Regions from separate parts of the Homo sapiens genome. Here region 2 is linked to region 1. The links come from fine-mapping of genetic effects on gene expression. Tissue or cell type: monocytes after R848. Region 1 holds a variant in brackets; the other region holds the start of a gene. All regions are shown on one strand. Distances are between the middles of the regions.

Region 1 (5,140 bases):
GCAAAGGCAGGACGAGCAGCACCACCGGCTACTCGGACTCTTCTGGAATGGGACCCCAACTCAGCTCCCACAGAGGGACGCCCACAGTTGAGGCTCTCAGGGCCTTGTTGATCCTTTTAGTGCAGGAGAGAGAGACCAGTCAGCTGGGCCAGTCCCCCACGCAGCCTGACAAGGCCGGACTCACTCAACAGAGGCCGACCCCGTGGGCAGAGGACTTGAGGCCCGGCAGGGCCCAGGGCCGGCACTCGACAGGGAGACCATGACGTGGGGCGGGGGCGGCCAAGTGGGCAGCATCCCCCGACCCTCAACACCTGCGGGAACTGCTGGCCCAAGGGAGAGCCCAGCCTGGCCCTGGTCTCCACCACCCCGGACCCTGCTCAACTCCCTGCACTGTGGGGCTGGGAAGCCAAGGCCAGGGTCCTTGAGGCTCTCACTGGCCAGAGGGCGACATGGGACACCAGAGAGCACACAGACAGTTCAGGTCGTTTCATTCAAAACCAGCCCAGGCCATGCCCGGGGGGATCCGCCGCTCCGCGGCAGGGCTGTGGCCCAGAAGGTGAATGAGGGCTTGCTGGACGGCCCCTGATGCCAGCGGCCGGCCCGGAGCCACCCCAGGGCTCGGAGTATTGCTCCTGGGCCTGCCTGGCCTCAGGGCTCGGCGCCCTCACCTCCTCGGACAGACCAGCAACGCCCACGCTTCCTGGGCTTTGCCTCGAGGATCCCCGGGGACGGGACGGGCCGGGGCTTGGAGGGGGGTCGGCTGCCACAGGCTCACATCACGGCCTCCATATGCAGGATCCTCAGGGCCTCGGAGATCTGCGCGCTGGGGTCCATCTGGCCGTACATGCCCACCAGGAAGGCCCGGTGGAGCAGCACAGCCGCGTGCTCTGTGGGGGAAACGGGGCCCTGCACGTCACGCTGGCCACAACATCCTGGCCGCAGTGACCAGACCTCGGGACTCCCAAGAGCCAGCCCTCGGGGGACGCACCTCCGGCCTCCCCGAGGGCTGCCAGGGCCCTGGGCGGGGGGCCAGTCCTCACCTTGGCACAGGAGAGCGTACTCAGGCAGGTTCCGGAGGGCCGTCTGCACCACCTCAAAGTCCTGGCTGCCCAGGCAGTACATGAACGTGGGCAGGAAAGCGGCTGCAATGCTGAAAGACCCACACACTTCAGTGGGAACCTCCACCCTGTGCCCACGCCAGACCCCCACCCGACAGGGCGAGCTGAGCCGCCTGGAAGCCTGGTCTGGCCACCAGGCGGGTCAAGCGGTGACCTGGGTTAGCAGGGCCCAGCGGTGGCGGCGGGACAGAGGCCGGCGGTGGCCTCACCTGGGGCTGTTCTGCATGGAGCGCAGGGCCAGGCTGAAGGCGAGGTTGCGGCAACACTCCTCGGCCGAGCTCATCAGCCGCTGCAGGTTGGTCTGACCGGGGGAAAGGTGGGAGGTGTGTGACCAAGGGGTCCAGCCCCCATCAAGGCCCCTTCACCTCTTGGTCTCGTGATGGTTGGCGGCAACGGCAGGGACCCTAGGCCCCTATCCAGAAGGCAGGACGCACGTGCCACTGGCCGGTCCCAGCCCGGGGCTGAAGGCAGGCCTGCTCTGGCGGCGGCTTGACTGTGAACACCTGGGCTGGGGCCCCCACCCGAAGCCCAGCCTCAGAGGACTCCCTGGGGCTCAGCGCGGGCACGCCATGTTGGGGTGGTGGCCCTGCTGGGGTTCCCCAAGGGAGTGGCTCCTCCCAGCTCTCCCTCAGCCCCATCCAGCTCACCGAGAAGAAGCTCAGGATCTCGGGTCTCCGCCGGGACATCTCGTCTATGTCACTCAGAACCTCCAGCAGATCTGACACAGAGAGAGGGCCAGACCAGAACTGAAGGGCCCAGGCAGACCTCTGCCCACCCCACCCCAGCCACCCAGAGGGGGCAAGGCCCCGAGCACCACAGGACAGAAAGCACTGGAAAGCATGAGCCCAGTGACGCCCCAGGCAGTCACCTGCCCCCAAGCTCCACAAATACCCGGCCCTGCCCCTACTAGTGGCCTCCAAGGAGAGGGGTTGACCCCTCACGGCAGCCCCATATCCAGGGTGCTCTTAGCACCAAGTGTCCCCACGGCCCGACTCCATCCGGGCCGCTCAGCCTTGGCTGTCCTCTGACAGCGGCCACCGGTACTGCCCACCCGCTGGTCTTGCCCACCCGCCTGACCTCTTCCTGCTGTACCCCCAC[C/T]ACCTTAGGGGGCTCCCCTGCTTTTTGCTGTGCCTGAAGCAGAGCAGCCACCTCCAGCTCCCCTGGGCCCCTGAGTTTCTAAGGCCCTCTCTGGGGGTGCTCCCCACTGTGAGGAACAGCCCACCCACCCACAGCCCAGCGTGGGCCAGGCTCACGCCAAAGTCAGTGCCCAAATGGCTACTGGCTGCTGCCCGCAGCCCCATGGGACCCAGGGCGCTGACCTGGCGTGGGTGAAGCAGGGCCTGACTCACCCTCCACCGTTTGGCCCCGGGAAAGCCGTTTCATGTAGGGGGCCATCTCGGCCGCGGTCAGAGGGGTGAACAGGGAGACGCTGACCAGGGGCAAGGAGCCGGCTGAGCTCTCCTCTGGAAGACAGTGGCAGTGCTGCAGGAGGGCGGGAGCGGCAGGACGTGCCACACTGAGGCACCAGGACCTGCCCTCCCGAGAGCACGGCGGCCACTGCCCAGGCTCCCAAGGTGCCTGCACACAGCAGCGCTCCACAAATGGGGTGGAGCCAGGAGCCGGGAGCTGCCTTTGGATCCGGCGCATGCACCTCTGCGAGTCTCTCCCTGCTGGGTTTCTCGCAATGTGGGCCAGGACCCACTGGGCACAAGACGGGATGGCCCCTTGGGACCCGGGCCTGGCGCTCTTCCGGCGGCACAGGAGAGACGTGCTGCGGTGCCGTGTCACCTCAGGCAGGGAAAAACCAAGGACAAGCCTTGCCCAGTAGGACCAGGGGAGGCTTCCTGGGGAGGGACACCTCGGACAAGCACTGGTGGATGGTGGATGTGCCAGGGACGGGGGGGTGGGGAGGGCCATTTGCCGGGGCGGGGCGATGTGCCGGGGGGCAGGTGTGCTGATGCTCTGTCAGGCACCAGTCAGTGCTTCGTCCCCTTGAGGTGGGTCAGGGGCCAGCCAGCAAGGTCCCAGGCTCACACAGCCCCCATCGGGACGCCTCGGACGGCCCAGGGCTGGCTGTGCGCTGGGAAAACCAGGCCCTGTAGGACTGTTCCGCAGCTGCTTCCAGCAGCCCCTGGCAGCCCCACTCACCCTCGCCCTCTTCGTCCAGGCCTCGGTCGGTCCTGTCGTCCCTGCTGGGCAGGCTGAGCCCTGCAAGGAGGGATTTCAGCATCACCAGGTCACTGTTGTCGAAGGACAGGTCGCTGGGGAGAGAAGATGCTTTCACCTGGGAGGAAGACGCTGGCAGGAGGAAGGCTGGGTCAGGGGTCAAACTAGGGTGGCATGGGAGCGTGTGGACACAGGCATGCAGGAGAGGCCAGGACGCTCAGAGGGAGGGCCGGGCGGGGAAGCCACATGTGCGTGGAACGGGACAGAGAGCCAGAGAGCTGCAGGGGTGGGTTCAGACGGCTTCGGCACAGGGTGGGGCGGCCTCTGCGCCCTGGGATGAGCACCACGCTCAGCAGCCCTCCCCGGCCTCAGGAGCAGCATATCTGACACGACACGGCCTTCCCAGGAACACCCTCCAGACCCCGCTGGACCCTCGCCGGAGGCCCGAGGCTTCCCTGCAGCCCGTGGGCACTCACTGGAGCGGGTCGGCGTGCTTCTGCAGGAAGGAGATGGCTGCTGGGGCATTGTAGGTAATGTACTTATGGATGAACTGCACAAACTTGTTGATGAAGGCAGCCAGATGGCGGGAGGACTTCCTGTAATTCTGCAAAGCAAAAGCGGCACCCTCGAGCTGCTCTGCCCCGCAGGGCCAAAACAGAGCCTGTGCTCCCATCTGCTCCCAGAGCCTCAGGGCATGGACCCCACAGCCAACGAGCCCCCTCTGCCAACCACTGGGGCGTCACAGGCCCAAGGGTGGCCGGCATGGCCTGTCAGGGTGTGGACATGGCTGTCTGGGGCATGTGCCCAGATGGATGAGGGGCTCGAGGTAGCACAAGCGACACGCAGAGAACAGCACGGAGGGTCTGGGCTGGGCTTCTGAAGGACGTGGGCCCCCCAGGCACGTGAGGGGCAGCAGGCAGGGGCTTCCCAGGGTGGGAGCTGGTCCCCAGGGCAGGTGGCCTGGCCTGGGCCCTGGCTGCAGAGGTCCTCCCAGTCCCTCCGCGAGTGGGTGAGGCAGGCCTGGGCCAGAGCAGAGGGAGTGGAAGGGAGCGCGAGGGCGGGCGGCGGGAGCACACACCAGCAGCAGGCGGATGAAGGACAGAAGGCAGTCCCACAGCGCCCCCTGGTGCTCGCTGCGGAACACGTGCGGCTGCAGCAGCTCCAGCAGGCCCAGCACGTGCAGGAAGCAGCTCAGGTGGTTCTGCTGCCGGAACTCCTGGAAGTTGAGGTGGGTGCGGCCGTGCAGGAGCGCCGCGATCATGGGCAGGTGCCTGCGGGCGCGGTGAGGGCCCAGTCAGCCCCGGCCGGCGGGCTCACCTGGCGCACGTCCCCAGGAAGGCCCCACTGCCTGCCCCGGGAGCCAGACCCCGTGCTGCCCCCCAACCACCCTCCTGCCCTAAGGAGGTGGGGATGAGATCGCCCCTCTCTGAGGCCCACCCAGCTCCTCCCACCTGAGGCCCAGCTCAGTCCTGACTTCCCCCGGTCAAGCTCAGCCCATGGGAACATGCTTTTTTTTGTTGTTTTTGGAGTTTTGCTCTTGTTGCCCAGGCTGGAGAGCCGCAGACCCCCCTGGTTAAACCAGTGTCTGGCGAGGGCAGGGCTTCTGGGACAGCACCTGAGCAGCAGCAGCGGGTGCGCCACCGCCAGCTTCCGGCAGGCCATGCTGGCATCCGCCCCTCGGTTCTCCAACGCCCGGGAGTCGCTGGTGTCCGCAAGGAGCGTGATGAAGCGGTGGATGAGTCCGTCCAGCTGCAGGGAGGGGCGCTCTGAGGCCGGGGCCGCTGGCTCCCCTCACTTGCCCACCCACACTCAGCCTGGCCGCCAGCTGTGGCCGTGATCCACCGCGTGGCACGCCA
Region 2 (5,140 bases), 32 kb after region 1:
ATAATACTATAAAGTGATCTACCACTCAGAATACGCTTTTCATAACCACGTCTCCTCTCATCTTCAAAACCTCCTTTCTACAGGAGGTAGTGCTAAAGATAAATAAAGCACCGAGCCGCCGGCGGCCGAGAGCCCGGGCCAGGATGAGGCCTGTGGTCTCTGTCTTCAATCCCCACCGGCACCAGCTGCCCAGGGACACGCCTCATGGGAGGTCTGAGGCTCGACCTCCTAAAGCAGTCCCCCAGCTGTGCCATCCTGGGCCGTTTGCCCCCAGGGCTCCCTGATGCCAACTGAGTCCAGCACAAACACTGCCCACAGCGCCCAGCCTCAGCTCTCATGAGCGTGTGCTGCCCAGGCCAGGCCAGGCCTCCATTCCCTGGGCACAGTCCATTCTCTGCTTGGCATCTCCCTTTCCTGCCTGCCCCGGTTTCATCGCCTGTGCTTCCAGGCCCAAGCCCATACTGCAACTCCCTGCCAGGCCTCCTCCCTTCCAGGGCCGTCGGGGACTCACTCACAGGCTTGCACTGCAGCAGCCTGGTCCCTCCCTGAGGGCAAGGCCACAGCCCACAAGTCCCCTGGGTCCTGTCTGGCACAAAACTCAGTAACCAGAGGTGGCGCGGCTTGAACAGACACCTCACTACCAAAGTCATCAGGACACTTGTTCTTTTTGACTCCTACAAAGAAATTACCCAAAAGAGATGCTCCCACAGAAACAAAACACTGCAGACCATGAGGCTTGCTGGGGCTGGTGCGATAGCTGCCAGAGCGACTCCCAGGGAGTCACGGAGCCTTGAGAAATGGTCGTTGGGAAAATGGCGCAGAGGGGCAGGGGCGATTCTAGGCACACAGTTAAAGGCATTTCTGCGAGAACGGGACAGTGGTGAAGCTTACATTCCCCCGTTGATGTCCTTACTGTTCTGCTGCTTTTCAACTGAAAACAGGGAGGGGATCAACTCTTCTCTGTTGGTAACCAGGAGGGAAGGAGGAACCAAGTACACATCGCCTCCGCTCAGGTTGAGAGAGGAACGCACCAGGATGGGCAACCTTGAGAACAGACACCTGGGGTGTCGTCACGCCCGGTTTACCCCCAGGGCTCAGACAGTGCCCGTCACAAAGGGGGCGTCCAACAGACACATGAGACAAACAACTCAATAAGGGAGTGACCCGGTTCTCAAAGGGCAGCCACTGGCAGTGCAGGACGCAGATGCACACACGGGATAAGGGCATCTACGTGAGAAGCACTTCCAAGAACAAGCCACAAACATCCGCTCTCCCAAAGGACCTCGGCCATACGGGCAGCACTAGGCCTGGAGGGGGCCTTCCCTGAACACCTGATGGACGGCATGAGCTGAGGGGTGTTCTCGGGGGATGTCCACAGACTCATTACCTTCAATTGGCACCACAGATGGCTCTTTAATCGACGGAGAAATGGCTCGTTTTTCTGCCACTGCAGCCTCAGCCAGGCGCCCCAGGGCACTCAGAGGGGGTGTGGAGGAGAGTTTGGGGCGTTTGGTGAGACCGGTGAGGGCCGAGGCACTGGACAACGCGGCCGCCGCATCCCGCTTGCGCTCAGAAGGCAGGCCGGAAGGGGCTGGCTTCAGCAGGGTGGACGCCGTTTTCGATTCATTGGCCTGACCCTTTGAGCCCAGAGCAATGAAGTCTCCTGGGGGAGGGTGCCCTGCAGAGAAAGGAGAGAGAAAACCGGGCACATTTGCAACACCCAAGATGGAAAAAGACTGACTCTAACCTCCTGTTATGTCAGAGGGGATTAAACAAGGGTCAGAGGAGGCAAGGAAGAAGCCAGAGCTCACTCAGCAGCCTACAGCAGAGCTGGGACCAGCAGGATACGCACAGGTGATGGTGGACAGTCACGTAGCGCTAACCACAAACCAGGCCATCTCTGGTCTATCCAAATTAGTGTGCTTAGTAACCCCCGCCCCGAGTTTCCGCAATAGGTGCTATTACTCTAACTTTACAAGAGAGAAAGGGACACAGAGAGGTTAAGCGACGTGCCCAGCGTCACACAGCAGGCGAGTGGCAAAGTCCGGAGGATCTGAGCCGACAGTTCAGCCGCAGACCCCGTGCTACGCTACACTGTGCTGCCTCCCGCCTCCTGGCTGGGGAGACCTTCCGCTACTGTCGGCCGCCTTGCAGCTCAGCCTGAAACGAGATCACCGGGGTCCCGAAGGAAGTCGCCACTGTCCCAAGCCTCCCAGGGACTCTCAGAGCCGCTGAGGACCGAGAGCAGTGTTTCCAGACCGAATTCCTGGAAACAGCCGCGGCTGCGGAACAACCAAGCCCAACGCAGGATCCGCGGCAGCTGAGATCCCCAAAGACCCCCAAAGACCCCCAAAGACCCCCGGGCTGCAGAGCGAGGAGGGAGACGCACCTGAGGGTTTGGCCGCGGCGCTGGGCCGGCGCACCGTGGTGGGCTTGGCCCGGTTCATCCTGCCCCGTCCCTCGCGGCTCCCGGCGGCTGCGGCGTCACCTGCGGAGGAGCCAGCGTGCGGTCATTCCTTCACTCATTCGCTCGTTCGCTCGCTCATTCGCTCCCTTGCCGCACGGGGCTTGGGCCTGGGACCCGGGGACAGTGGTCCCGCGCCCGCCCGGCGGGGCGATGCTGCAGGAGCTGCAGGGACCCCGCCTCCCAGCCGCCCGGGAGCGGCTCAGTCGGGCGGCAGCAGGCGACGCGGACGCCGGGCTGGAGGCGGCAGAACCAGAAGGGACGGCCCAGAGGCCGGGAGCGGTAGCCGGGAGAACCAGGCGCTCGCCCGGCAATGAGGAAGCGCCCAGGCCGCGGCTCACTTACCTCTGGCCCATCGCGACCGGAGCGCCGCCGCCGCCACCCGGCCACCCCGGAATCGGAAACCGATCTCACCGCCCTCGAGGACCCGACTTCCGGAACAACCGGAAGGAAAACAGTGCGGCGGGAAGCGGGCCCAGAAGGAGGCGCGAGAGGCCCGCGGCGCCGGCCTGATGCCTGCAGCGCCCCATGGCGGCGGGAGGCGGGCTGGCCGGCGCCGCGCGCATGTGGTCCGGTCCAGGTGGGTCGGCGGCGCGGGGCAGGCGCTGGCCTCTCCATTCACAGGTGGTGCTGGCGTTGCGAAGGGACGCACTCCAGGACGCACGGCGGGGAGGAGTGGCGTCAGGGATCCGCGGATGAGTCAAGTGGCAGGTTCTGCACGTCCCGGAGAGCGGGGGCGGCCGGGGCGCAGGCACTGGCGAGGGGGCGCAGCCCGGGGGGCTCCCGGGGAGAGACCCTGTCTCAAATAATAATAATAATAATAATAATAGCTTTATTGAGATAGAACTCGTGTTCCACAAAGTTCACCCTTTTCTTTTTTCTTTTTTTTTTTGGCACGGAGTCTCGCTCTGTCGCCCAGGCTGGAATGCAGTGGCGCGACCTCGGCTTATTGCAACCTCCACCTCCCAGGTTCAAGCGATTCTCCTGCCTCAGTCTCCCGAGTAGCTGGGATTACAGGCGCCCGCCACCATGTCTGGCTAATTTTTTTGTGTTTTTAGTAGAGACGGGGTTTCACCATGTTGGCCAGGCTGGTCTCGAACTCCTGACCTCAGGTGGTCCGCCCGCCTTGGCCTCCCAAAGTGCTGGAATTACTGCGCCCGCCCCGCCCCCACGCCTTTTTTTTTTTTTTTTTAATGGAAACACTGATGGGAACAAAACTCAAAAGACACAAAAGATCATACAGTTGCCAGGTGTGATGCTCATGCCTGTAATCTCAGCACTTTGGGAGACCAAGGCAGGAGGATCGGTTGAGTTCGAGACCAGCCTGAGCAACATAGCAAGACCCCCATCTCTACAAAAAAATAAAAATTAGCTGGGCATGGTGGCATGAACCTCTAATCCCAGCCCTTTGGGAGGCCAAAGTGGGAGTCTGAGACCAGCCTGGGCAACATAGTGAGACCCTATCTCTACAAACAAAAATCAAGAATAAATTAGCCAGGCATGGTGGTGCATGCCTACGGTCCCAGCTACTGAGGAGGCTGAGGTAGGAGGATCTCTTCAGCTTGGGAGGTCAAGGCTGCAGTAAGCTATGATGGTGCCACTACGCTGCAGCCGGCCGACAGAGCGAGACCCTGTCTAAAAAAAAATAAAAATAAAAGGTGGGGGAATCATCCAGTCAAAGGGTCGAAGGTCTCCCCTGACCCCTGAGCAGCTGGTCCCCTCCCCTGGAGTCAGCCTGTGTTCTGATTTGTGCCTGTGTTCCCGGCTTTTCCGTGTGCGTTCAGGCAGCCACCCGTGTGCCTCCCTCTGCCTTGTCACCCTGCAGGTAGCGCACGGCTCCTCTTTTCTGCACCTGGCTTTTGCCACTTAACCACATCTTGGAGATCTGTTCCCAGCAGGGCACTGACTCGAACGCTGCCCCGCCACCGAGGGAGTCCTGAGCACCGCCTGCCCGGTGTGTCCCATCTCCTCATCCAGGGACCGCAAGGCAGAGCTGGTCTCCCTGTGCCCCTGAAGTTGGGTGTGGCCATTTGACTGTGGCCTCAGTGAGGCTCATGGCCCCAGGCTGCAGCCTGAGAACTGCTGTGTGACCCGCCACGGTCTCTTTCCACTCCTGTGGGCACCAGCTGGGTCCCCGCAGGACCCCAAGGGCTCCAGGGCCCTGCACCCTGCGCTGTGTGGGCAGCGAGTCCGGAAGGAGACGTCCGTGGTGCCCATGGGAGGAGAGGCCGGTCAGGCGCGGATCCCTGCCGGACGCCAGGCGGGGGCTGTGCGGCTTCATCCCTCTACAGTTTCTCAATCTGTCCCTCAGGGTAACTCTCTAAGGGGAGGGGAGATCCGATGGGGTAATGCTTCCTCCTCCTGTCACCTGAATGGGAGCACCCTGCACAGAGCTTCCTCTGCCCCGCCACCTGCCTCTCCTCATCCTCTGACCAGCATCACCGCCCCTGCATGCGGGGCCTGTGCCTTCGGCAAATGCCCTCACCCGGGCCCAGGCCAGAACCTCAGGGTCGACCTTGAGAACAACTACCTCCTCCTCCCCCTCCCCCTCCCCCTCCCCCTCCTCCTCCCCCTCCTCCCCTTCCTTCTTCTCCCCCTCCTCCCCCTCCCCCCTCCTCTCCTCCTCCCCCTCCCCCTCCCCTCCTTCCCCTCCCCCTCCTCCCCCTCCCCCCTCCC

The links. PIP is the estimated chance that this variant, and not a neighbour inherited with it, causes the effect.
Region 2: it holds the start of INTS1, and the variant in region 1 is fine-mapped to the expression of INTS1 in monocytes after R848 (Quach 2016, PIP 0.90).

Annotation. Positions count from the first base shown.
Region 1 is chr7:1,469,806-1,474,945 of GRCh38, forward strand. It overlaps INTS1 (integrator complex subunit 1), which reads right to left. Exons shown (of 48, transcript NM_001080453.3): 40 at 4,900-5,033; 41 at 4,363-4,555; 42 at 3,761-3,888; 43 at 3,267-3,379; 44 at 2,468-2,581; 45 at 1,766-1,836; 46 at 1,328-1,419; 47 at 1,041-1,150; 48 at 472-887. The coding sequence ends at 772. Among named protein-coding and RNA genes, the nearest start is that of MICALL2-DT, 12 kb to the left of the region's middle. RefSeq lists an enhancer at 26-721 and a silencer at 4,496-4,695. The variant C/T (reference allele first, on the strand shown) is at 2,217.
Region 2 is chr7:1,501,514-1,506,653 of GRCh38, forward strand. It overlaps INTS1 (integrator complex subunit 1), which reads right to left and starts at 2,876. Exons shown (of 48, transcript NM_001080453.3): 1 at 2,810-2,876; 2 at 2,390-2,488; 3 at 1,388-1,678. The coding sequence starts at 2,447. RefSeq lists a silencer at 2,522-3,081 and enhancers at 3,968-4,564, 4,190-4,379, 4,565-5,140.